4 linked regions of the Homo sapiens genome follow. The protein of the gene in region 1 purifies or fractionates together with the protein of each later gene. This does not show direct contact. Each region holds a gene or a part of one and is shown in the gene's direction. Other genes may lie near its edges. The genes, in order: TSHB, FKBP14, TINAG and SMCHD1.

Evidence for each region.
Region 2: the proteins of TSHB (region 1) and FKBP14 purify together in Homo sapiens (affinity purification with mass spectrometry; 2 studies listed by BioGRID and IntAct, with this or other methods). This does not show direct contact.
Region 3: the proteins of TSHB (region 1) and TINAG purify together in Homo sapiens (affinity purification with mass spectrometry; 2 studies listed by BioGRID and IntAct, with this or other methods). This does not show direct contact.
Region 4: the proteins of TSHB (region 1) and SMCHD1 purify together in Homo sapiens (affinity purification with mass spectrometry; 2 studies listed by BioGRID and IntAct, with this or other methods). This does not show direct contact.

What each region holds. Positions count from the first base shown.
Region 1 is NC_000001.11:115,025,572-115,032,845, forward strand, and holds the start of TSHB (thyrotropin subunit beta isoform 1 precursor), read left to right. Parts: upstream 1-4,254; 5' UTR 4,255-4,289; intron 4,290-7,274. UniProt on the Homo sapiens protein: Indispensable for the control of thyroid structure and metabolism.
Region 2 is NC_000007.14:30,023,696-30,030,628, reverse strand, and holds the start of FKBP14 (peptidyl-prolyl cis-trans isomerase FKBP14 precursor), read left to right. Parts: upstream 1-3,926; 5' UTR 3,927-4,120; coding exon 4,121-4,317; exon of another isoform or gene 4,318-5,242; intron 5,243-6,933. Other genes in the region: PLEKHA8 (pleckstrin homology domain-containing family A member 8), read right to left, coding at 1,827-1,866. UniProt on the Homo sapiens protein: PPIase which accelerates the folding of proteins during protein synthesis. Has a preference for substrates containing 4-hydroxylproline modifications, including type III collagen. May also target type VI and type X collagens.
Region 3 is NC_000006.12:54,311,417-54,318,445, forward strand, and holds part of TINAG (tubulointerstitial nephritis antigen), read left to right. Parts: intron 1-7,029. UniProt on the Homo sapiens protein: Mediates adhesion of proximal tubule epithelial cells via integrins alpha3-beta1 and alphaV-beta3. This is a non catalytic peptidase C1 family protein.
Region 4 is NC_000018.10:2,658,710-2,665,738, forward strand, and holds part of SMCHD1 (structural maintenance of chromosomes flexible hinge domain-containing protein 1), read left to right. Parts: intron 1-7,029. UniProt on the Homo sapiens protein: Non-canonical member of the structural maintenance of chromosomes (SMC) protein family that plays a key role in epigenetic silencing by regulating chromatin architecture.

The sequences.
Region 1 (7,274 bases):
CTGCATATATATGACATATTTGTTTATCACCTGTGGATGGACATTCAGGTTGTTTCCAGTTTGGGGCTATTAAAAATAAAGATGCTATAAATGTTTATGTACAAGTTCATGTATGGATATATCTTATTATTTCTCTTAGATAAATACTGAGGAGTGGAATGATTGGGTCATATTGTAGGTGTATGTTTAACTTTTTGAGAGACTTATGGACTGACGAACTTGTACCATTTTATGTTTCCATCAAACATTGTATACAAATTTCGATTGCTCCACATCCTTGCTAACCCTTGGTATTTCCAATTTTTAAATTTTAGGCAGCCCAAGACGTGTGTAGTGCTGTCATTGAGGTCTTAATTTCTTATCTCTGAGACTAATGATGAAAATTTTTCATCTGTTTACTTCCCATCTACATAATTTTGTGAAATGTCTATTCAAACATTTGCTTATTTAAAAAATTGGATAATTTTTTTCTTATAATTGAGTATAGCAGGTTCTTCATATATTCTGTATACAAGTTCTTTATCTTATATATAATTTGCAAGTTTCTTTTCTTTCAGTTTGTGGTATGTCGTTCTTTTAACAATGCCTTTCGAAGAGAGAAGTTCTTAATTCTGATGGAGTCCAATTTATCATTTTTTGAAAATGGATCATGCTGTTGGTGTTATATCTAAGAAAGTTTTGCCTAATTCAAGTTTTGCCTAACAAAAGTTTTTTTTTTTTTTTTTGGGACGGAGTCTCGCTCTGTCGCCCAGGCTGGAGTGCAGTGGCGGGATCTCAGCTCACTGCAAGCTCCGCCTCCCGGGTTCACGCCATTCTCCTGCCTCAGCCTCCCAAGTAGCTGAGACTACAGGCGCCCGCCACTACGCCCAGCTAATTTTTTGTATTTTTAGTAGAGACGGGGTTTCACCGTTTTAGCCGGGATGGTCTCGATCTCCTGACCTCGTGATCCGCCCGCCTCGGCCTCCCAAAGTGCTGGGATTACAGGCGTGAGCCACCTCGCCCGGCCCTAACAAAAGTTTTATTCCATGCTTTCTTCTAGAAATGTTAGAATTTTAGTTTTTATATTTCATGTTAATATTTGTATATAATGCAAGATATGTATTGAAGTTATTTATTTATTTTTAAAAAGTATTTATTTTTATATATGGATAACGAATTGTTCCAGCACCATTTGTTGAAAATACTATTTATTTTCTACTCAATTTTGTTTTCACCTTTCTTGAAAATAATTTGACCACATGTGTACAGGTTTATTACTGGACCATATTTTGTTCCAATGATCTGTCTTAACACCACTTTCTTAATTACCATAGGTTTACCATCTTGAAATCAGCGATTCAGTAAGATTTTCAACATAGATGGTCATGTCGTATGTGAATAAAATTTTACTCCTTCCTTTCCCATCTGAATGTCTTTTTTCCTTTGGCTTATTGCGTTAACATTGCACTTACAGCACAGTGTTTAATAGAAGATGCAAAAGCAGACGTTTTTGCCTTTTTCCTGATCTTAGAGTAAACGTACTCTGTCTTTCAATATTAAGCATGATATTAATCATAAATTTTCCATGATGCCTTTTATTAAGTTAGGAGGTTTTCTTCTATTCCAAGTTTGCCGAAAATTTTTTCAGGAATCTATGTTGGATTTTGTAAAATGCTTTTTGTGTATGTGGTTGTGTGTGTGTGTGTGTTTCCATTGGGATCATCATAAGGCTTTTAGTTTTTAGCCCGTTAGTAGGGTGAATTTTCTTAATTGAATGCAAACTAAACTCGCATTCCTGAAATAAATTCCACTTCGACCATGATGTATTATTCTTTTTACATATTGTTTATTTTGTTTTGTTAAATTTTGTGAAGAATTTTTGCATCTATGTTCATTTCATGAGGGTTATTAGTTTGTGGTTTTCTTTTTTGATAATGTCTTTCTTGTGAACTCTAGCTGCCTTGGGGATCCATGGACTCCCAGGTCTATCTCTTCAATTTGGTGATGCTTCTGGCCTCTGCCTTGGTAACTTTTCATGCACTATGGCACAGAAACTTTCTCCAGGCAGTCTCTCCCTGTTTGTTTCCCATCTCTCTCGGATCATGTACTTTTGTTACCTGATGTCCAATATGTATAAAGACATTATTTTATATATTTTGTACTGTTTTATAATTATTTTAGGTGAGAAAGTAAACCTGGATCAGAAGCACAAATTCAACATGCCTGGATTCTTTTAACAGTATGAGATCATATACACTAAGGCCTCTTTAGCAAGAAAATCACTACCCAAATGCATGGTATTTATTATAGTTCTTTTAGTAACAGGCCAAGTGTCTATCAGTTGTCCATTACATATGTACACACACACATACATACATATATCTCCCAGGGATAGGTATATAAATCCGCTAGAAAATGAGTTCCTGAATCAATGCTTTATACAAAGGAGGCACTAATTCCATTAGAAACACACATCCAACATTCTTCCATTTATCATATTCCTGTGTTAGCATCTTGTCTGAAATTAGGTTGGCACACTCATTTCCAGTTTCCCTGTTTTCAAAATTATCTTACTACATAGTAGCTCACATTCCCAAGACCTTGGACCCTGGCATGGCCATTTCTAGGTATATATCTGTTAAACTAAATGTGGCCTGAGGATACCTCTGTTTTGTGAGTTCCTACATAATGAACTGCAACCTAACTTAGTATGTACACTACCTGAAAGCCTAACTTAGGAGTATACTTTTGTAACAGACAGCTGAATTTCAGCTCATCACAGCAGCTGAGCTTCAGTCAATTACAGGCAGCCAGCTGATCAGACTTTGTCCAAGTAAGGCAAGTGCTGATGTATAATGAAATCAAGCTGTTTCGATATCTCATTTCTACTTTCTGTCCATAAATGCTGTCTGCCCACATTGAGGAGCAGAGCTCTGTGAATCTCTTCTGATTCTGAGGGCTGCCTGATTTGACAATCATTCTTTTTTCAATTAAACTGACAAAAACAAGCAATGGGGAAAAGATTCCCTGTACAATAAATGGTGCTGAGATAACTGGCTAGCCATATGCAGAAGACTGAAACTGGATCCCTTCCCTACACCATATAGAAAAATCAACTCAACGTGGATTAAAGACTTACATGTAAAACCTAAAACTGTAAAAACCCTCGAGGATAACCTAGGAAATATCATTCCAGATGTAGGACCGGGCAGAGATTTCATGACGAAGACGACAAATGGAGTTTCAACAAGAACAAAAGTTGACAAATGGGACCTTTAACTAAAGGGCTTCTGCATTATGGCCCAGAAACTTTCTCCAGGCAGTTTCTCCCTGTTTGTTTCCCATCTCTCTAGGATCGTGTACTTTTGTTACCTGATGTAACAGGAAAAGAAACTATCAACATAATAAACACACAACCTACAGAATGGGAGAAAATATTTGCAAACTATGCATCTGACAAAGGTCTAATATCCAGAATCTATAAGGAGCTTAAACAATTTATAAGCAAAAACTGAAGAACCCCGTTAAAAAGTGGGCAAAAGACATAAACAGACACTTTTCAAAAGAAGATATATACATGGCCAATAAGCATATGAAAAAATGCTCACACCACAAATCATTAGAGAAGTGATATTACCTTTTAATAGAAACTGAAGAGGTCAAGCATGCCAATGTCATATGGCAAGTAAATGGCAGGGCCAAAATTTTATCTCAGGTCAGCTTGACATCCTGTCAGATGTGGCCATGTTCCTCAGAGTCATTCTTTCACATGTGTAAATTTTACTTAATATCTTAAAATCCCCCAAAAATATTTTGAACTACACATTTTGTTCTAAACAAAATTTTTAGATGAGGAATAATTTTATATATCTTTACATGAACATTTAGGTAAAACTTGAAGCCCTCAAGCCCCAAATAAATTTTTATTCCCAAGACTTATTTAGATGATGTTAGAGTGTTTTTTGAATTTGGTTTTTCCCATTCTGTATCTATCTTTTATTAATATTAATAAATAAATATTAATAAAGAATATATTTAAAAGGTAATTTTATTTTGAAACAGAAGAGAGGAAAATGCATGCTTTAATAATGTCAGTTTCCAGGTAAAGATATTGTGAGCTTGTTTGTCTAAATACATTTTATTTGGAATTCAGTATGAATTTTCAATAGATGCTTTTCAGATAAGAAAGCAGTAAATCAAATGCAATTGTATAAACAAGAAGATCAGAGGGATTATCCTGAAGGGTATAAAATGAACCAAGAGCTTTTAGTTTGGGTCACCACAGCATCTGCTCACCAATGCAAAGTAAGGTAGGTGTCTATAGTGAGAAGGCTCTGTGAAATGATATGTTCTTAAGCTATTTTTTTTCACTTTCACCATTTTATCATTTTTTAGAAAGTGGCAAATGCTGAAAGATAATTTGCTTCAACAGGCTGTAATATCTTAAATTACTGCTCCAAATTGTTTAGTAGTAGATGGAGGTGAGAGAACTACCTACATAAGGATAAGGAAAAAATTCATTGACTTAAAGAAAGAGAAACAACTGATTAGTTCCCTAATGAAGGATATTTGATATTCATGGCTTTCTTCTGTTTTCATTTTGATTTAAATATTGTTGTCCATTTAATGATGTGTGTATTAAATCCTCTCAATTACTGTACTAATGGCCATCTTTTATGAAAATGTACTTCCGGGAATGTTAGAGCAAATTCATTTTTGAGTACCTGCTGGGGTAATGTACTCTGTATTATAAGTTCTTTTTAGTTATTTAATAGCTAAACCTCCTTTGATAGTGTTCAACACACACACAGCTGCTGTATAGTACATTTTGCTTTCTAGAAAAATATACTGCTTTAGTGAAGTTCCAGGATTATTCATAGGATGGGCAATTAGTTCTTTTCATAGTAAGGGATTTGGAGAGTAAAAATTAATGAAGGAAATTAGCAGAGCAGAGAGGAAAGTGTTTATTAAGAATGAAGCATTGGGAGCAAAAATAAGAGAAAAAAAGAGAGGAAAGAGGCAAAGGAAAGAACATATCTTGGAATAAGAAAATACGTTCAAAGTAGGGACATATATGTCCATGCATCTGAAGAAGGCATCTCATTATTTAGGCCCTGCCTGAAACCATGCCTTCTATGTTTAGGTACCCAACAAATTATTCATGGTGATTTCAGAATAAGCAATTAAGTGGCAAAGATGAGAACCCAGATGACAATGAGGAAGAAATTGTGGCATATCACAGAGGAAGGGATTAACTAACGCGGATTTGTACAGTGTTATACAGCTATGTGATCTTTCTTATATAGAGAGCCAAGTGTTTCACATGTATTGTTTTATTCTTTTTATGATTTTAGGAAGGGACATATGGAAAAATGAAGGCACAAAGATATTAAATTGCTCAGTTGCACACAATTACAATTAAATCCTTAAGTAGAATTTAGATCACTAACTCTTAATCAATCAATCAGATCTGACACTAATTTATCATATAGAATTACAGACTATTTGTGCTGCGAAGATTTTCATGATCATCTTCTGGCTCTAAGCCCTGCTTTTATAGGTGAGAAAGTTGAGGCCCAGAAAGATTCTGTGGGTGAAGTTTTACTATTCGCAATAAAGAAGTAAAGGAAAAGAAAAGTTCTTGCTTTCTTTATGCCCACAAAGTTGTACAGATACTGTGGCTGGTAATTCAGCACTTCCATTTTCTACTTTTGTTAGTTTAGAGTTCTACATTTATAGGAGAAACTTCAAAAAAATATAGAGTATCCATAGTTAGTATGACAATAGGAAAACCAAAACAAATTTTCATCCTACATTTTAAAAAGGGTCAGGTGTACTTGTCACTTTCTATTTTGCAGATGGGGAAATAACACTCAAACAGATTATATATTTTAGTCAAGTTCTCATAGATTTATGGAAGAATTCTGTTTCTTAATTTTTAGACCAATATTTTCATCACCAGGTCACCACATTGATTTTATACAGAATTATAGAGCTAAAAGTTAAAATATGTGAAGTTAGTTGTTTCCTATAGAAAAAACTCAGTAGCTGGCTGTCTAAACAAGCAAGAACTATAATGGCCATGATGGGTAAGCATTTTACATAATTTACCAGTTAGTAATTTTAAGATCCTACAGAGGATCATCAAGTTCTGTATCTCTAAAATACTGGAAGCAACTCTGTACCATAGAGGGAGCTCACATTTGAGAAGCGCTTGAGAAAGCCAGATTCCATGAGTAAGGAATTTGTATGTTTTTGCTCCTTAACTCAAATACCAAACAAACCTTCCGTGGAATGTTTGAATATGCAACATTTCATTTAAAAGAATTTGTGAGAAAAACCCCTGTTATTTTAACCTTTAAAAGTTAAGTCTTCCTAAAATGGGTTAGTTTACTTTCTTGTGTAATAAGAAGTATAGTAAACATAAATCTTTGATAATTGTAGGTCTTAAAGTCTTAATTTGGACTCTTTCAGAGCACTAGAACAATCTGCGTTTTTATTATTTGTGTTCATATTAGCTCCTCCACTGGACAGTCAGCCCTTTAGGTAAAGGACCGTAGCTTTTCCGTTTGTGTTTGTCAGTGCCTGGTTCAGATGCTCAATATATGTTTATCTAATTTATCTACAATTCTCATTCTAGGAATAGAAGGTTGATTGAAATGACCACTGATCTCTGGAATTTGACATTTAAAATAAATCCCTGGTAACCTGTGTAATGTGGTTTTCATGGTTTCTTATAAGTTGATTGAAAAAAAAATCCTGGTTAACCAAGGCCGAACCTATGAGGTTTCAGTTTACAGAGGTTTTAGTGTATATAGCTTAAAGATGCTGTTGGGATATAACTGACAGATTTGGGGAAATCTTGGTACTTCTGATTATTGAACAAAATATTTAGTAAATTATATTTTATTTAATAGAACAAGCAAACAAGTTTATGTTCATAGACCACAATACTACTCCATTAAGGTATATATTTTCTTTACTGACAATGATACTTGAGAAGGAAAAAAATCCAAACACATCTAGCTAGCTGTACAATATTTGTAAGATTAAAAAAATTCTTCTTAATCTTCAAGGTGATCAACTTACATTCAAAAGTCTGAAATTTAATTACCCTTCCTCAGTAGTAGACCTAAAATAATTATGTCATAACATTATCCAGAGGGATAATGATATCAATATCAATATCATATCAATATCATATTGATATGATATATCCAATATGATATCATATCCAATATAACTATATCCAATCAATACATATTGATAATGATATCCAATTGATATTGAACAAG
Region 2 (6,933 bases), on another chromosome or scaffold:
AGGGAACAAGCAGCATCACGTAGAGACAGCTGTCTCTGGCAATGGCTCCAGTGCCCTCTTCTTCAGGGTTTCCACCCTAGCACCACTCACAGCATTAACTTCTCTTACTTTGGGAAGAAAAAAGTAGACTCTTTTCCAACAGAACAGATAGGAATCAAATAACAAAGATTCCAAAAGATCCTTCTAGAGAGTTCTGCTTTATTGAAGGATACACAAGGACAGTCAGCAACAACAACAGCAAAAGCATTTCACTACCAGGAAATAGTTACTGTATCAAGAGACTAAACTTTCTATATAGAAAGGAGAAGGAAAAGAGGGGGAAAAAACCCCACAAAACAACAAAAAAAGTTGGGGATGGGGAAGAATGGGAAAAAAAGAAGAATGTTGAAGATGAATGAAAAAAAGTGTGTGTAATGGAAAGGAGTGAAGGATCAGGAACTAAATTTTACTCAAGTATATGCATCTGAGAGCTTAGAGAGACCTCAGAAGGAAAACTGCCAGGTCGAGCCTCCTCCCCTTAGGTTAGCAGTGTTGATCAGCCTCTGTCATCCACCAAACCAAAGCCTAGCTTTGAGTTATTCTCATCTAATCTAATTGCAGACATCACTGAAGGTCCTTGACGCAAACAAGAAAAACCTCTTCTCATTTAGTCTCTATTAATGATTACAGAAAAAAAATAAACAGGTGAACTCACTGCTAATTACACTAAGCAAAGGGAAGAGATTCTGGGTACGCCCAATAGGGGCACCTTTGGCTGTGCTGTGTGACCTCCTCGAAGTTACTATGTATGCCAACTGATCCTCCCACACACACCCATTCTTAAAACACCCGGCGCATTACCATACTACAACCTTTTAAAAACTATCCCACAAAAGAAAGAAAACGTCTCTCACCCACTCTAAGGGATACTGGGAACATTTCTGCTTTCAAACACACTGCCTTTAAAATTTTAAAGACCTAATTCATTTTCTGTGATAAAAAGTTTACTTCCAAAAAAGTGGCTAGCACAGTTTCCAGCATATAGTAGGCTTGTATTAAATACTAGTTGCACACATGACAAAAATGATCGTTCTGAATAATTTTCACAGCTGTAGAACAGTTACAACCTTCTCAAGATATGAAGCTTTTACCTCCACAAACTAGAAAAAAAGGGCGGGGACTATTTTAAAGCCAATCTGTAAGGCACGGCAAGAAAGTTGCAAATATTTGCATTCATTTAACGGTAATTTCTGAGTCTGTAAAACAAAAGGAAATGCTCAACGAGAAAATAAAAAACCTTGTGCAGAGCTTTGAAACTGTGGAGTTGGGACTCTTGACACCCTGGTGTGCACGCAGATGACTCTGAAGGTGACAAAGGGAAAGTGTTTGCACTGAGGACTTTGATAAAGGATCTTTCCGCTGTGGAATTCCAGGTTACTGCTGGCATTCTTTTGAAACCTTCCAACCTAGCTGCGAGCCAAGGGAGTACGGTTCCTTCGCCAAAATTCAAGAGATTCCCAGAGAACCCCACGGCGGGGCGTCTGCGCCTTCCTCCCGCTGACATCAAGAGCACCGTGCCTTTCAAGTCACCCAAAATCTCAGTCTTTGTAGCCTTCCTTGAAGCGAAAGGGCAGCCACAGCTCTTAACCAACCCCAAGAGAGGGCCGTGTCGTCCTGCACGGCGACACGGTCCCGTGAGAGAACTGCTTTGGGAAATACTCCCGCTCCGCGCTGGCCTCAGGAAAGGGCCGTGACCCCCTCCCTAAGACGGGTCCAGACACCGCCCTCCAGCCGCGCAGACAAAGGACCGGCCCCCGGCGCGCCCCCGGCCCGGCACGGCCACTCACCGCTCAGATAGTTGGTCCACTTGTACAGCACCCCCTCCATGGCGCCCGCGGCCACTCGGCCCACGCCCGCCGGCCCCCTCACTGCCCCAGGCCCCAAGAGGCGAGGAGCACCAGCAGCAGGGCCATCGCCTGGCGCTGCCCAGACGCCCACTCCCGGCGCCCGGGCCCGGTGTGGGGACGCCCGGCCCGCCTCACATCCTCGGCCCGGGGGCGGGGTCACTGCGGCGGCCTCGGCGCTTGAAGCCCAGCCAGCCGGTGAACCCGTGGGGCGAAGCCGGCACGCTGTTCACAAGGAGGCCCGGGTCCGGGCCCTACGTGGGTCGGAGGGGCAGCCGAAGCCTCCAAAGTGCGGCGAACGAGCTGCCGGTCGCAGGCGGCGCCACGGCGCACCACCTGAACCCTCGACTCGCCGGGCCCGGGACGCGCTCGCGCATGCCCAGGGCGCCGCTCGCGCGCCCCTTCCCAAAATCCACTCCGGGATTTCGCGGCAGCGGCGGCGGGGCGGAGTTTGCGGGAACGGCCCGCAGGGAAATTGAGTCCCGAGACGCGGACTGCGGACTAGGCGACGGGAGGAGGGAGGCCCCTGAGACAAGTGTGGAGCGCAGTTCTGACTGTAAATGGTGCCCGCCGTTTGAGGGTCTACGTGACCTCTCACGATACCTCCTGAGTTCTAGTCCCTATTCTTGTTCCAAAGCTGCCTAATTGATCTCACACACTTGAGGTAACCAATAACAGGGCGTAAAGAGATTATTGGAATTTCAGGGTAGAATACTATGAGGCCAGTGTAAACAGATGTTGTCCAGACTCTAAGGTCTCACTATGGAAGTGTTGATCTACTGACCCGGAGCACTGACATCACCTAAGAGCTTGTTAGAAATGCAGAATCTTGCACCCACCCCAGACCTCCAGATCAAAATCTGCATTTTAAACAAGATCTTCAGGGGGATTCCTATGCACATAGAGTGCGGATATGCACTGTGTTAAGGTTATTAGACCAGAAAAAATGTTAACTACAGATTAAGTGGAAAGAGGAGGTGAGAAAAGACTACAATACGATTTAAATCGCTTTAAGTATATGTCACAGAAGCATGCACCAAAATATTAAGAGGATTGTTTGCGGCTGGTGGTGGTATCGGCGAGCTTTCTTTTTCTTTAAAGTTGCCTGATTTAGTAAATAAAAATGCAAAACCATTATTCGTTATGTATCTGAAATTCCAACTTGATTCGACTCCCCAATATTATCTGGAAATCTTACTTTAGTGCTTTCCAATTTCTTCCAAAATGACTTCAATGAACATGCATTACTTTTGAACTTAGGCAAAAAATGTAAAACTAGAAAATGTAAACTACGATGAGGCTGTGTAATTCGTAACCATGATTACCATTTCTTCTTTAAAGCGGAAGTCTGCAAGTCGAAACTCATTATTTACCCTGTAAGGTAACTTAAGGGATAAATTATTAGCAGCCATAACATGACGTGGTGCTGTGGAATGAATCAGACCTGGTTTGAAGGCAGAGCTCATTTGCTTCGGGGCCAAACAACCTTAAGCAGGACAGTTAATATCTCCTGGTGTAAATTTACTTCTCTTTTAAATGGGAAAAAAGAACCTGCCTTACTGGGTGTAGTGAGGTTCATGCAACGGGAACGCGCTTTGTGAACCCTCAAGCAGTATGTCAGTCTTTACAGTTTATAAGCAATAGCAAAATCCTAGGATTGTGGCATCTTGGGGGGCCGCTCTCCAACGGCGAGAGTAAACGAGTCTTTCCTGGAACCCCGAAGATTTCATAGGGCCCCGGGACTCTTCCTACGTCTCTCAGCAGGGTTCTTCACAGAGATAAATCAGCCGGAGGAGTTTCCGGTTGGCTCTGCGCCCCGCCCCTCTCCCAAAATCCACGCTGGTTGAATGCTGAAATCCACCGGGCTCTAGGACCACAAGGGATGATCCGCCGCTTGGCAGCTGCCCGGCTCTACCGGGCTGTAAATTCCATCGTTGCAGCGTCATTGGCTTGAGAGCTGCCTGAAGGACAGCACCAATAGCCAATGGGAGGCTGCTATTCCCAGGCGGCCGCGTTATAAGAGCCAGTCAGGCCGGCATTTGGGCTTAACTCTTTAAAGGTAGGTTCGTGACCCTTGAGAAAAGAGTTGGTGGTAAATGTGCCACGTCTTCTAAGAAGGGGGAGTCCTGAACTTGTCTGAAGCCCTTGTCCGTAAGCCTTGAACTACGTTCTTAAATCTATGAAGTCGAGGGACCTTTCGCTGCTTTTGTAGGGACTTCTTTCCTTGCTTCAGCAACATGAGGCTTTTCTTGTGGAACGCGGTCTTGACTCTGTTCGTCACTTCTTTGATTGGGGCTTTGATCCCTGAACCAGAAGTGAAAATTGAAGTTCTCCAGAAGCCATTCATCTGCCATCGCAAGACCAAAGGAGGGGATTTGATGTTGGTCCACTATGAAGGCTACTTAGAAAAGGACGGCTCCTTATTTCACTCCACGTAAGTAATTATGCCCCGCAGGTAAAATAGTAATTAAGAATCCACTCACTTATGCCAGCTCTCCAGCAGGAAAGGTGGCCTGTACCTGGTTTTGCCTCTTTTACAAAACCGAAATATCTTATTTCCTTCTTTGGGAAAGGAAATTGTTTAAAGCCAGTTTTATATAGCGAGCGAGGCCTTTGAAGGTCTTGTTGGAAACATGTGGTCTGGAAAAGGCTGTTAATTTTTTTTATTATACAAATTAGAACTAGAATCTTTGAAATATTGCAGAAATATATCTGGGTGTATAATTGGCCAATAAGTAGAAAAAGCCCAAAAGAATTCTCATATCTCAAACTCCATTTCTTAAAGAAAATGACTTGATTCCATTTTTAATGTGGTGTAGGTGATGTTCACCTAAAACTTTTCACAGCGACTTCAAAAGCAAACTACACTATCACTTATTTGCCTGTTGAAGGATATACTAATGCCGTTTCACTGACCTACTTCTTTTGTTCTGACGAATGGTATTTTGGTCAAGGCACAGGACCATGATTTCAGTCATTTGCTTCTTTCTAGAGAGTCAGACTTCATTGATGAGGTGGGTGTGGTTTTGGAAGTCTAGGTGAAGGATTTTCAGGTGGTTACACTATCATTTCTGTTCTATAAACGAAGAAATTGGAACATGGAAATGGTTTACAGCCTAATGATTTTCAATTAGGCATCGGTTCCATTCATTCCATTATGACAGTATTTAGTGAGCATTTCCTTGATGTTAAGCCATGTTCTGGGTGCTAGGAAGATTCAGAAATTTTGGCTTCTAATCATCTTCATCTATTCATTAGTCTGTCCATCTATCAAACTCTTATTGAATGGTCACAAGTCAGGTCCTGGAGACGCAAAGATGGCTAGAAGCAGGTTCTTGTCCTCTAACAGTATACACCATCTACAGGTGGGAGAAAGACAAGTAAATAATGCAATGATATAGGGTACAGAATATTCAAAGTGCTAGCAAAGCGTAACTGGGCCTGAAGTAGTTAGGCTCCATGGGGTGGGGAAAGGGAAAGACTTCCCAGAGACCATAATTGAAATGAACCTTGGAAGATGGGTGGAGGTTTCCAGGGGGAAAGTAGGGAAGGATGTTGTAGGTAGAGGGAATAACATGAATTAAAACAGTAAATCTTCATAGCCCATCCTCCACCTGATTTTCTAATAAACTGCCTTTACTGGGCATTCAGACCTGGTCTGTCTTGAGGGTTGGGGAAATGAATGGGGCTCTTCTCTAAACTGTTAGCCCTGGGAAAAAGTTCCAGAAAAATGGCTTGCCTTAGAATTCTCAACAGCCCTTTCTTCTTGTCAACTAGGTGAGTGCCACGGTGGATATTAAATGATGTGATTTGCATTTTGAAAATTCAGTTATATTGTTATTTTTAGTCTGATCTCTTTTAGACTCAGCCTGACTTCTTTCAGATTTCTGAACCAAAAACCTGTGCTGACTTTGGTGGTAGCCATGGAATATTATTTAGCAGTTTGCTACTAAGTTCTAATACCTGATGAGGGGACTGTTATCATGCAGCCTCCATGTAAATGGTCAGAAGCTGCTAACTGTAAACTTCATGAAGAAATACCATCAAATTGGCTGGGCGTGGTGGCTCACGCCTGTAATCCCAGCACTTTGGGAGGCCGAGGCAGGCAGATCGCGAGGTCAGGAGTTTGAGACCATCCTGGCCAACATGGTGAAACCCCGTCTCTACTAAAAATACAAAAGTTATCTGGGCGTGGTGGGCACCTGTAATCCCAGCTACTCAGGAGGCTGAGGCAGGAGAATCGCTTGAACCCAGGAGGCGGAGGCTGCAGTGAGCCAAGATTGCGCCGCTGCACTCCAGCCTGGGCAACAGAGCGAGACTCCGCTCTGAAGAAAAAGAAATACCATCAAATGATCAGTTTGTAAGCACGTTTGCCATCTCTAGAACCATAGCCTATGGGATAAATTGCTTAGCCCTAAGAAGAACTGTGCTAAAATTGTAGTCAGTGATGAGTAGTAGAATGTTTCCTGCTTCTTTTTTCATTTCTAGCCTTCCCAAATTTTCTACAGTTGGCATTTTGTTACTTTGATCATTGGGCAAAATTACAGGAAAAAATGGCATTACCCAGATTTAGTAACCATGGTACTCATGAAGCGTAGTACAGTGACTTCTTTTTCTCACCTACAAGATATCCTTGAATAGAATATTTTCCTTATTGCACTGAAAGGGAGCTAGGTAGGGATCAGGCATTACTCAGCCCTTAAGCCTCCCTGTATGTAGTTCGGCAGGTTGGTTTTCCTAGGCTAGACTCTCTTCAACTCATGAGCCAGGACATTCTATTTCCCTCGTCCCCAGTTGATAGGGTTCCGCTATGGCCCCACCCAATTCTCATCTTAAATTGTAGCTACCATAATCCCCACATGTTGTGGAAGGGACCTGGTGGGAGGTAATCGAATCATGAGGGCAGGTTTTTCCCATGCTGTTCTCCTTGTGATAGTAAATAAGTCTCACGAGATCTGATGGTTTTATAAAAGGCAGCTCCTCTGCACACTCATTCTTGCCTGCTACCATGTAAGACGTGCCTTTGCTCCTCCTTTGCCTTCCGCCATGA
Region 3 (7,029 bases), on another chromosome or scaffold:
GAATTGCTGGGTCCCAGGTATGCATTTAATCTAAGTCTTGCCAGATGGCTCTCAGAAGTAGCTGCATTAGTTTATGTTCCCCTAGTACTATACGGGGACACGTCTCTAACAATTAGTATTATCCAGAGAGGTAACCTTTACTTATATAATCAGTAAAACGTGATTTCTCATTGTCATTTTAATTTGCATTTCTCTAATTTCTAGTGGGTTTGAGCTTCTCTTCATATGCTCATTAATGATTGGCTTTCTTCTTCCTGTGACTTACTTTTTCCTATCCACAGCCTTGTAATGCAACTTAATATCAGGTACAGCAAGTCAGCTTATTCACCCCCCTTTTTTGAAGATGACTTAGGTCATGTAGACATTAATCTTCCATAAACAGTTTTTGAATAAGTTTTTTTAGTTCCTCAAAAAACTTCAGCTAGAATTTTGAATAGAATTGCATAAAATTTATAGACTTATTTGAAGATAGCTGAACTCTGTAATGTGATGACATCTCATCAAAGAGTATAGGATATTTCTCCACTTACTCTGATTTTTAAAAATATCCTTAAATAGATTTAACACTTTACTCCATAGTGGCCTTATAATACTCTTGTTTATTCCTGGATATTTATTTTGTATTGCTTTTTTTTTGTTTGTTTTTTGTTTTTTGTTTTTGACAGGGTCTTGCTCTGTCACCCAGGCTGAAGTACAGTGGCGCCATCATGGCTCACTGCAGCCTCGACCTTCCCCGGGCTCAAGTGATTCTCCCACTTTAAACTTCCAAGTAGCTGGGACTACAGGTGCCTACCACCATGCCTGGCTATTTTTTTGCATTTTTAGTAGAGATGGGGTTTTTCCTTGTTTCCCAGGCTGTTTCAAACTTCAGAGCTCAAGCACTGTATTATATATTTTTAAAATATATTTTATAGTTGGTTGGCTGTTGTTATGAATAAATGCTATTTATTCATGAGAGCTCATATCCTACTGGCAATTTTTCTCAATTCTGTTATTAGAAACAAAAATGTATTTATTTATCACAGTAAAGCTGTCTACACCAGAACTCCAAAGTAAACATCATACATAATGGAGAAATGTAGATAAGTTCCCTTTAAGACTAGTAATAAAACATGGGTTTCTACCGTTTTTGCTACATTTAACAGGGAGATATTTGTTATGCTTTAAGAGAAAAAATGAAGTAAAACAGTCTGAAGAGAATAAAGTAAAACTCTTATTATTTGTAGATAATGTGGCAATCTACATAGAAAAAAATAAAGCCAACAGAAAATAGCATTAATATGAATCAGAAATATTTAAAAACCAGGATTTTTTATTTAAAAATCCAGATGTTTAGCTACTCTTGAAAAATTGAAAAATCTGACAATTCTGCGTGCAAGGTCTTGCATGAGATTTTCATTAGTGAGAGAGATGAGTGGTGGATGCCACCTTTTGGTAACATGTATTTTCCATTTTCCCATATCCCTTACCCCTTGCTATTTTCTCTCTGACCCACTTCTCTCATCTCTGCCGGGGTCAGTATGTCTGTAGTTTCTGTAAGTGGAACTCCTCATTTTTGCTCCATATACAACTTGCACAGCTGTACATGCACCCTTGGGCCATTACTATTGCAGGTATTTTGGGATTGAAAGAAGGTAATTTCTTTGAAAATGGAAGGTGTATTTTCATCGAAAAATAGAAAATACATGTTTAAAAATAGAAAATACATGTTTAATAGAAAATACACGTTTAAAATTAGCATCTTAAACATGTATTTTTTTGAACTTCTCTATTTTGTCATGTTGGTATGATCCTTAAAATAATAGGTGAAGTTAATATGTATTAGTAACATGATGAGAATACATAAGGCATCATAAGGAGCCCTGTGCCCAGGATTAGTTAGGGATCGTATTCCTGTTATTTAAATATAGTTTCTAATAGTGACAAGATTGGGCAGACAAGGGAAATTCACCCCTCACAGAACCTGCACATAGTACATATTTACTTAACAGACCCTTCTGTAATACCCTGAGTAGCATGTTTTCTCTTGTCTTACTGAACATACTCTTCCTCCTCCTTACAAGCTAAGATTTATTGAATACTTACTATGGAGCCAACAACTGTTCTAAGCACTTTTCAGGTATTAACTCATTCATTATTTAATTCTATGTTGTTTAATAGAATATTACTTTATTTTAATTATACAGCAGCTTCTTAAGAGTAAACACGGTGATTTACTTATCACGTACTAATTATGGTGCCATGAAGTGGGAGGCCTAGTAAATATTGTTTGAATTTGGATTAATTGATATTTAGAGGATTTAAATTTTATTTCAAATTTTGTATTTGTTAAATTAAATAATAATTTACTCATATGATTTAAAATAATAAAATATTTTCATAAGCATACTTTTTCATACATAGTTTTAAAAGATATTTAGAAAATATCAAAGTATTATTGTTTATAGTTTAAATGTGCAATTTCTATATTATTTTGGATGTTGGAATATCAACAGGAGTAATCGATAGTATTTAAAACTTTTTATATATCCATGATTGTGGTAAGCATTGAGGGTCATAAGAAAAGGGTATTATAAAGTCCCAGGCCTCGAGAAACTTAGGATCTACATGGGTAAGGAGACTTAGGTATGCGAAACAATTAAGAAGCATCGTGTGACTTGTATGCCACATGTGGACAAGAGTATCACCCAGGAAAGTTGAGTATATTAAAATGGTTAAATGTTTATTTGATAAAAACTATGTACCATATAAGAACATGTCAGATTGGTGACAACCCTAACTAAAATACGTATTTTTAACACATAAGATATTTTGCCTGGATTCACTTTGTCATTAGCCACGAGGCTCCATGCAGCCTTCTGCTTCACCATTCTTAGAAAATGGCCCTTGTAGTCATGAGCTGCTTTGGCTCTTCATGATCCAAAAGTGATATTTGAGTCCCATTTAAAATAAATGGAAAAGAAGGTTAGAGTTTCCACATTTTGAGAAGACATTCTAAAGCACAGATGAGCACCTCTGTTTTATTTCTTTGGCCAGAATATAGTCACATGGACATACCAACCATCAAAGAGAGGTTTTTCTTAGCTGTGTGGTAATGTGTCTAGCTATGAATGGGGTTCTGTTACAAAAAAAAAGAGTAGAGAATGATATTGGGAATAACCAGCAATCTCTGCCAAAAATTAAGAATGCGGAATCACCTAAAAACACAGTGGCTATTTGGATGTCTGCCTTTTGATTAGTTATTATATCAATTTAATATTTTTTTGAGTCTCAGTTTAAAAGTATGAGTTGTAATTTTTTAATGTGCTGAAATGTACTTGAGATTTTCTTATTTGAGGCATACAGTGCATACAAAAAAAGTAGTTGCTACTTCTTCAATATCCATTTTTGCTTGAGAGGTAGAATTTTGCTAAGACTTTAATTTAGGGTCATAGTTTATGTAGAATTTATGTTCCAGGTATAGTTTTTACTCCATTCACTATGAAAGGAAGGAATTAATCATTTTACTTTGTAGCAAAAAGTTCACATTAGACTATAAATGCTCCCATACAGATAATTTTTTTTCTTTTGTTTTATCTTGCTTTTGAAAGCAGCTACTTGAAAATAGTACTACACAATATTGAAAAAATGTGCAAAATTAGTTAAGATAAAAATACAATGTATATTATTTATGCTATTGGTTGCATGCATAAAGCAACTTTCCTCTGAGATTCTATGATCACTCACTGATCTATTAAATATATTTTTCAGAGATTTAGTTACATGGGTATTGTTCAGTTCCTCTTATTGTGCCTGTTCTAAGAGCTCTTTAAATCAAGGATTTAAAACTATGTACATTATCTTCAGGATTAAAAAAGTAAATATATCCATTTTGTACAAACTGGAAGTAAAGCATATTGGTAAATATCTTCTTTCTGTATTTTCTTTGCCATATCTGATGGTAACTTCCAGTAAAGGATTTCAAATGTCAGGCTGGGTGTGGTGGCTCACACCTGTAATCCCAGCACTTTGGAGGTCAAGGTGGGAGTATCTCTTGACGGCCAAGAGTTTAAGACCAGCCTAGCAGTACAATAAGACCTCATCCCCACCAACAACAATAAAAAAAATAAAAATTAGCCAGTCATGGTGGCATACACTGTAGTCCCATCTACATGGGAGGCTGAGGCAGGAGGATCCCTTAAGCCCAGGAGTTTGAGGCTTCTGTGAGCTATCATTCCACCAATGCACTCTAGCCTGGATGACAGAATAAGACCCTGTCAAAGTAAAAAAAAAAAAGTAAAAAAATTCAAATGTCAGATATGGAGAACCAGTGACAGAGTTGAAAACAGAGCTCGAGTGGATTTTCTAGACATAACCTTTTGGTATAGAGGATTTTAAGGAGAAAGTCTAGTAGACCATCTGCTGTGAACAGACCTAAGTTGATTTGATTATGCACAATATGTTCACATTGGTAAAAAATGTATGTGAGTCACTGACATGTTTGAATTCGAAGAGGGTTATTTACTTCTTCACAGCCTCCTTAACTATATTACAATGAAGGTAAATCACAGTCCATACTTTGCCACGTATACTGACAGTTACAAAAATATGACACAAACCAATTCATACAACGTCTATAAGCTTCATGAAATCTCCAGTTCCTGTCCTTTTACGTGTTCCCACATCTACGTTGCATGAAAGATTTATTGGAGGCACATGTGATAATATTACAGAGGTAGAACTCTGTTACCTATACAGTGGCTATCAGAGAATGACAATTCCTCCTTTCTACTTGGCTGGACACAGTACACAGGACAAATATCAGTCCTAGAGAGCCAAGTCTAAGAGTACAGGTGCTTTTGAGTTTAAGAGATACATCTAAGCTATGGGATACAAGGGTGGTATGTGACTTTGAAATATTTTAGGTAATCCTCATAAGTAAAAAAATTATAATTTAACCAATGGGAGCCAATTATTTATCACAATTATGCTGATTAACAAGTCATGAATTTTAACAATAAAACCCATTTCTGACATTTATTATACTAATAATCTAGGGTTGATCAAAATATGGGTAATGGAAGCACTTGCAGCCGTTTCTCCAAAGCCTGGTCTTTCAGAGTGAATGCCACTGAACAACCCTGGGGGGTGGATTCCTGATTAGAGCAAGCAACTGCCTTTACTTTAGTGAAGTTTAGACCAGCACAGATATTTATAATACACTGTGGTGAACTATTTTAAAATAAATTATAGACAACATGTCATTATCTTTTTGCAATTCAAGAAGTGAAGTTTTGACCAGCATAGATACTTATAATACACTGTGATGAACTATTTTAAAATAAATTATAGACAACATATCATCATCTTTTTGCAGTTCAAGAAGTGAAGTTTAGACCAGCACAGATACTTGTAATATACTATGATGAATTATTTTAAAACAAATTATAGACAATGTATTATTTTCTTTTCTCAATTCGAGAAGATAAACTATTTCATTCTCCAAATATATTATTTGCCTAATATTGCTTTAAATGCTGTTAAAGTCACAAAACTGCCGTAATTTCAACAGTCATTAGTTTTGGCTTTGTTTTGTTTTGTTTTTTTGGTCAAGATGCTGTGTGTAACCAATTAATTAACTCACTCTGAGGAGCTCCAGACATATTTTACTGAGAAAGTAAAGCTACCGGACAGGAATTCTTTCATATCTCCACAATCATAGTTTTCAACCTACCTCCATCTGGGTTACTGCTTACCTTGAATTGACTCCCCTTCTTGAGTTCTGAATCCCATCTTCTCTTATCTTTTCAATACCTCCATCTCTACCATTCTCTCTCGCTTTCTTGCTCTCTCTTTCTTCTCAAGCATCATTTTTTTCTTTTCTTTTCTCCTGGTGATATGGTTTGGCTGTGTCACCACCCAAATCTCATCTTGGATTGTAGCTCCCATAATTCTCACCTGTCATGGGAGGGACCCAGTGAGAGGGAATTGAATCACGGGGACAGGTTTTTCCCATGCTGTTCTTGTAGTAGTGAATGAGTCTCATAAGATCTGATGGTTTTATAAATGGGAGTTGCCCTGTACAAGCTCTCTCTTGCCTGCCACCATATAAAATGTCTCTTTGCTCTTCCTTCGTCTTTTGCAATGATTGTGAGGCCTCCTCAGCCATGTGGAACTGTGAGTCTATTAAACCTCTTTCTTTTGTAAATTACTCAGTCTTGGGTATGTCTTTATTAGCAGTGTGAGAACAGGCTAATACATGTGGATTAACCATTAATTTCCAAAATGTGTTTTTGCCTTTCCCAACTTTATAAAATCTCTCCCTTAACTTCATGTCTTTAACCAGCTACCATCTCATTCCCTTCTTTCCTTTAATGGCAAAATGTCTGAAAGAAAAATTTACTTTCTTATTCCAAGTCTCTCATCAACCCATTCCTACAGGATGTCAGCTCCCTGCTACTTCACTGAAATCTCTCTTGGCAGGGTTATTGGCAATTCCTACATTACCAAATGCAATATTCAGATGTCTGTTTTTGTGTTCTTGGCCTCTCGACAGTACTGTATGCAGCTGACCACCTAGAGCATTTGAAACACTGTATTAACCCTGTTTTTCATGACACCACCCTCTCCTCAATTTTCTGTTCCCTCACAGGCCACTCCTTCGCAGTTTCCTCTTCTGAATGTCTGTCAGATGCAGTGTTTTGAGCTCAGTCCTGGACCACTTTCTCTTACCTATATACACTCTCTCCAAAAGACTCTTATTTAGTCTTGTGTTTGAAAAAGTAGATATGGATGTTGGTGTCTCCCAAATTCATGCTCCAGCCTGGGCTTAACTCTTGTCTTTTATAAACTGCTGTCTACTTGATATCTCTGTTAGGATGTCTAGCCTAGGTTTTATCTAAATCTAAAATATACACAGTAGCAGTCTTGATTTCTTGACACAAGCCTGTTTCTTATTTTAGTGATAGCTGTACCATTTCTTTATTACTCAAGCCAAAGTCCTAATGAGGTATCTTTGATTCCTCTTTTCCCTCATTCACCAGATTCAAT
Region 4 (7,029 bases), on another chromosome or scaffold:
CTGAATTAAGTCAGTGAATTAATAATCTGAGATTACATGGTCAACAAGCAGTGAAACTGGGATTGGAATTTAGGTCAATTTGATTCCAAAGCTTATGTATACATATACATATATATGTGTGTGTGTATATATATGTATATGTATATATACATATATATACACACATACACACATATATACACATATATACGTGTATACGCATATATACATATATACACATATATACACATATATATACACACACATATATATATTTTTTACACTACTCCACACTATTTATTAGAACCATCACTTTTGTCCTTAGGGGAAGAGACAAAATAATATACTAAAGTTTTTGTTAAAATGTAAATTAAACCAATAAATGTTTGTAGTGTCAGGCAGTATTATGGGTGATCCTAAACTGTTACTTATTTATTTATTTTTTTTGAGACGGAGTCTCGCTCTGTTGCCCGGGCTGGAGTGCAGTGGTGCCATCTTGGCTTACTGCAACCTCTGCCACCCAGGTTCAAGTGATTCTCCTGCCTCGGCCTCTTGAGTAGCTGGGATTACAGGTGCCTGCCACCACGCCTGGCTAATTTTAATACTTTTAGTAGAGATGGGGTTTTGCCATGTTGGCCAGGCTGATCTTGAACTCCTGACCTCAGGTGGTCCACCTGCCTTGGCCTCCCAAAGTGCTGGGAATACAGGCATGAGCCACCACGCCCAGCTCTAAATTGTTATTTGAATAAAGTTCACCTCATGGAAAAGGAGAGGGAAGAAATGGAAAGGACAAATCTGCAAGAAGCCCTTAGACCTCTGATAAGCAGCTGTTGACTCACCTGAGCCCTTGTGGCCTTGCAGAATCAACGATTAGAAGATGACTCATTTGGTTAGTTCTAAAATATGCCCAGATGTTAAGTCCCATGTGTGCATATCCCCCCACCACCAATTTGAAGAAATTGTCTACATTTTCCTTTGTGTGGCTCCAATGTTTTTTGTTGTGCGGCTATTCTAGGTGTTTTGTATTTTAATATAAGATGTGCTCATCAATTTCTACAATAAACTTGAGATTTTGAAAAAAAAAAAAAAAAAAAGCAGAAAACTATGGCTTAGCAAGTGCCATAGTAAGGTAACGAAATATAATGGAGCCACATTAAAAGCTGACTAGTTTGCAGAGTTTCAGAGCAGTGCTAATTAAGCTGTGTGCTTTCTGACTAATCCATGGATGAAAATTACCTGTTGTTCAGAGATAGTGAAAAAATAATTTTAAAAATAAAATTAACTGATCATTTTGGTAGGTAATCATTTTATGCACTGCAAGTCAGTTAGTCCTTAAATATTTAAGAGAAGTTGGGGACGGCATAGTGGCTTACACCTGTAATCCCAACACTTCGGGAGGCCAAGGCGGGCGGATCACCTGAGGTCAGGAGTTAGAGATCAGCTTGGCCAACATGGTGAAACCCCGTCTCTACTAAAAATACAAATATTAGCTGGATCTGGTGGCGGGTGCCTGTAATCCCAGCTACTCGAGAGGCTGAGGCAGGGAGAATTACTTGAACCCGGGAGTCGGAAGTTGCAGCGAGCTGAGAACGCACCGCTGCACTCTAGCCTGGGTGGCAGAGCGAGACTCTTGTCTCAAAAAACAAACAAACAATAATAAAATAAAATACTTAGAAAAATTGTGAATTCAAGAAATAATTTTTATAGATGAAGCAGGGAAAACAAAAAGATAGTTTATGTGTCTTAATTAAATAATAATAAATTTATAGATTAAAAATCCATGGTTTTTTTTTTTTTTTTTTTGATGGGAGTTTCACTCTTGTCACCCAGGCTGGAGTGCAGTGGCGCAATCTTGGCTCACTGCAACCTCCGCCTCCCAAGTTCCAGCGATTCTCCTGCTTCAGCCTTCCAAATAGCTGGGATTACAGGCACCAGCCGTCATGCCCGGCTAATTTTTGTATTTTTAGTAGAGATGGGATTTTACCATGTTGGCCAGGGTGGTCTGGAACTCCTGACCTCAGGTGATCGATCTACCCACCTCGGCCTCCAAAAGTGCTGGGATTACAGGCATGCGCCACCATGCCCCCTGGAAAATCCATGGATATTTAATATGGATGAAAAATCCATGGATATTTCATATGGATTTTTGATGTGGATTAAAAACCATGGATTTTTAATATGGATTAATTTTAAAGTTTATTGCAGCACTATTTACAATAGTAAAGACGTGGGACCAACACAAATGCCTATTGATGATCAACTGGATAAAGATAATGTGGCACATATACACCATGGAATACTATGCAGCCATAAAAAAGAATGAGATCATGTCCTTTGCAGGGACGTGGATGAAGCTGGAAGCCATCATTCTCAGCAAACTAACACAGGAACAGAAAACCAAACACTGCATGTTCTCACTCATAAGTGGGAGTTGAACAATGAGAACACATGAACATAGGGCGGGGAACATCACACACAGGGACCTGTTGTAGGGTAAGAGGCAAGGAGAGGGAGAGAATTAGGACAAATACCTAATGCATGTGGGGCTTAAATCCTAGATGACAGGTTGATAGGTGTGGCAAACCACCATGGCACATGTATATCTATGTAACAAACCTGCATGTTCTGCACATGTATCCAGGAACTTAAAAAAAAAAAAAGATAGTTTGTGTGTCTTAATTGAATAATAGTAGATTTATAGATTAAAAATCTATGGGTTTTTAATATGGATTAGAAATCTGTGGGTTTTTAATATGGATTAGAAATCTGTGGGTTTTTAATATGGATTAGAAATCTGTGGGTTTTTAATATGGATTAAAAAACATCTGTGGGTTTTTAATATGGATTAAACATCTGTGGGTTTTTAATATGGATTAAACATCTGGGTTTTTAATATGGATTAAACATCTGTGGGTTTTTAATATGGGTTAAAAATCAAAAGAAAATGAACTATTTGCTCCAGTGCAGGAAAATACAGGCAATACTGGATACAATTAGATGGTCAGGAGCGATAACCCGGTTGCCATTGTTTGAAGAAGAGAATAAGGTGCTAGCATTCCTATCCGTAGATAATTTGACAGCTAGGAAATAGGGGGAGTCTTCTATGTAGTTAGTGAAGGCTAAATGAACTATTATATGCAGTTATCGTAGAAGAGTACTCAAAAAAATCTGTAAAAAATAAAGAAAGGCCGGGCGCGGTGGCTCACGCCTGTAATCCCAGCACTTTGGGAGGCCGAGGCGGGTGGATCATGAGGTCAGGAGATCGAGACCATCCTGGCTAACAAGGTGAAACCCCCGTCTCTACTAAAAAAATACAAAAAATTAGCCGGGCGCGGTGGCAGGCGCCTGTAGTCCCAGCTACTCGGGAGGCTGAGGCAGGAGAATGGCGTGAACCCGGGAAGCGGAGCTTGCAGTGAGCCGAGATTGCGCCACTGCAGTCCGCAGTCCGGCCTGGGCGACAGAGCGAGACTCCGTCTCAAAAAAAAAAAAATAAAATAAATAAATAAATAAATAAAGAAAGAAAGAAAGAAAGAAAGAAAAAATAATAGACTTATGTGGGATTATATGGAATAATTAGATATGTTTAGGTGAACATAGATCTTAAAAAAATCATTTGCACATAGTTTTTCAGTAACTACAGGATGCATAATTACATGATTTAACAAGTGGGACATTGGCCAGGCCTGGTGGCTCACGCCTCTAATCCCAGCACTTTGGGAGGCCAAGGCAGGGAGATCATCTGAGGTCAGGAGTTTGAGACCAGCTGGCCAACGTGGTGAAACTCTGTCTCTACTAAAAATGCAAAAATTAGCCAGGTGTGGTGGCACACGCCTGTAGTCCCAGCTGCTTGGGAGGCAGAGGCAGGAGAATGGTGTGAACCCGGGCGGCGGAGCTTGCAGTGAGCTGAGATCGTGCCATTGCACTCCAGCCTGCACAACAGAGCAAGACTCCATCTCAACAACAATAACAACAAAAAACCAAAAAAAAAAAAAAAAAAAAAAAGGGACATCATAGAAATAAAAAAGTAGTAATGAATTAAAAAATACACGACTGTCATGGTTATATGAAACCTAATAAAAATCTATAAGGTCATTTTTGTCTCTGTTAAACAAATAGAATCTTCCCAGTCAGTTTATGTTCATGGCTTTATTTCTCTAGGGTGGAATTGCATGGAATATGAGTATCTTTTAAGTTTACTAAAGTATGCCAAATTAATTACTTTCTTTATGTTTGACTTTTTTTCAGTCATATCAGCAGTGTGTAAGGTACCTATTTCTCTGTACAGAGGCCTACACTTGATGGGCTCAGAATTTAACATTTTTGCCTACCTGATGAGAATAAGTTATATTAATTTCACTGATAACTAGTGATGTTGATCTTTTTATGTTGTCTGGTCTTTTTCTTTATGACTTGTGCTATTTGCATCTTTTGAGACAGAGTCTCACTCAAAAGTCACCCAAGCTAGAGTGCAGTAGTGTGTGATCACGGCTCACTGCAGCCTCGGCTTCCCAGGCTCAGGGGATCGTCCAACCTCAGCCTCTTGAGTGGTTGTGACTACACGTGTGCACCACCATGCCCAGCTATTTTTTTTTTTTCCATTTTTTGTAGAGATGGGGTTTTACCACATTGCCCAGGCTGGTCTTGAACTCCTGAGTTCAAGCAATCCGCCCACCTTGGCCTCCCAGAGTGCTGGGATTACAGCTGTGAACCACTGTGCCTGGCCCACTGTTTGTACCTTTTCAGAAATCCCTTTATGCTCACTCAAAATTATTTCCCTATGTGTTCTTTTACAATTTTGGGCTAATGTACAACTGCTTTAATTCTCCTGGAATTTATTTTTGTCTAAGTTAAGGTGTGGATTTTATCTGTTTCCATGTTGAGATAACTAGTTGTCTTAATATCATTCATTGGATAGTTTATTCTTTCCCCACCAATTTGTAATGTCACCTCTCTTGTTTGCTAGGCTCTGCATCCATATATATGTGGACCTGTCTAAGGGCCCTCTATTCTCTTCCACTGGTCTATTCCAGGAATTTTTTTTTTTAAGACGGAGTCTCGCTCTGTCGCCCAGGCTGGAGTGCAGTGGCGCGATCTCACCTTACTGCCAGCTCCACCTCCCGGGTTCACGCCATTCTCCTGCCTCAGCCTCCCGAGTAGTTGGGACTACAGGCGCCTGCCACCACGCCTGGCTAATTTTTTTGTACTTTTAGTAGAGACGGGGTTTCACCGTGTTAGCCAGGATGGTCTCGATCTCCTGCCCTCGTGATCCACCCTCCTCAGCCTCCCAAAGTGCTGGGATTACAGGTTTGAGCCACCGCGCCCGGCCTATTCCAGGATATTTTAAAGTAGAAATTTTCTTATGAAAACCTTCAGACACAAAGAGAGAATCATGTTATGAACCCCAGTGTACTCATCCAGATTCAAGTTAATAGGAATTTACCACACTAGGATCATTTTTGTTTTTGTAATGTATTTAAGGCATATTCTAGGTCTTAGGTCATTTCACCCCATATACTTCAGCCTGAATATGTATTATCAAACCATTAAAATAAAGCATTTTTAATATTGTCTAATGTCCCTGTCCATATTGAGTTCTCTGAATGTTTAAAAGTATCTTTTTATAGTTGGTTTGTTTAAATCAGGATCTGACATAGTCCTCACATTAAATTTGTTTTTTTTTTGTTTCCTAATTATTTTCAATTTAAAGCATTTGAGCAAATTCCTCCTCCACCAGTCTCTTTAGTTTTCCTGCAGTTGACCTCTTGAAGAAATCAACTAGGTCTTTAATATTCCACATTATGGATTTGTTTGTGCTCTTTTTTGGTGTTACTTAATTTGTTTTATCTCCGTATGTATTCTGTAAACTAAAAGTTAGCTTTAAAGGCTTGATTTGATTTAGGTTCAACTTCTTTGGGGTCAGGAGGCAAAGAATGCTTTGTAGGTAGTACTGATACTTCATATGGCATTACACTGGGAGGCACGTGATGTGTGGGTGTTTCACCCACTCATAGCAATGCTAACATTAAAATCTTGGGATTCACGTGATTTCAGCAGGATTCCTCCATAAGGAAGTTTTGATCTGACTTGCCATTCCTCCTGTGTTTATTAGCTGGAATTCTTTAAGGAACAACTTTGCCTCATCAGCCAGAGCTATTTTGGTTATCCTGAAGTACCATTGATACAAGAAAAGCAGTGTAAATAATTTGTTCTTTCCCTTTAATTTGTCAGTGTTCAGAGTGACAAGTTGGTGCCCTAGCTCATCCCAGTGGTGAGCAATAATGGTTTTTATTAATATCATTTTTGAAGATTTGAGTATCACTAGTCTAGATTTTTTAGATGTTTTCAATAAGAATGTTAATCTTTAGACTAGTCCATTACTACCCGAAACAGAAGCCTTTTCTCTTAACTATATATTGCTGTATTGTTTCATTTTAGACAGAGCATGTATGTTTTAATTCTAATGTAAATGAAAATGTTAACCACTTTTCTAATTCTCATTTTTTGATTAATGTGATTTTACAGTTCATGTGTTCATTGGTCATTTGTATTTTCTCCTTTTCATTTTTTTGTGTTTTTACTTTTTCTCTTTGTTGATCCTTGTCACCCTTTTGTTTCTTGTTGCAATTTCCCTCTAATTTTTTTTTTTCTTTGAGACGGAGTCTCATTCTGTTGCTCAGGCTGGAGTGCAGTGGTGTGATCTTGGCTCACTGCAACCTCCGCCTCCCCAGTTCAAGTGATTCTCCTGCCTTGGCCTCCTGAGTAGCTGGGATTACAGGTGTGCGCCACCACACCTGGCTAATTTTTGTATTTTTAGTAGAGACAGGGTTTCACCATGTTGGTCGGGCTGGTCTTGAACTCCTGACCTTGTGATCCGACGGCCTCAGCCTCCCAAAGTGCTGGGATGACAGGCATGAGCTACCATGCCTGGCCAGTTTCCCTCTAATTTATAATTTGCTTTAATTTTTAAAGTTATTCGTTTGAATGGACCTGTATGTCTTACAAAGCATGGCTGTTCTTCCCTCCGTGCTATAAAATGCTAACTTCTGTTTT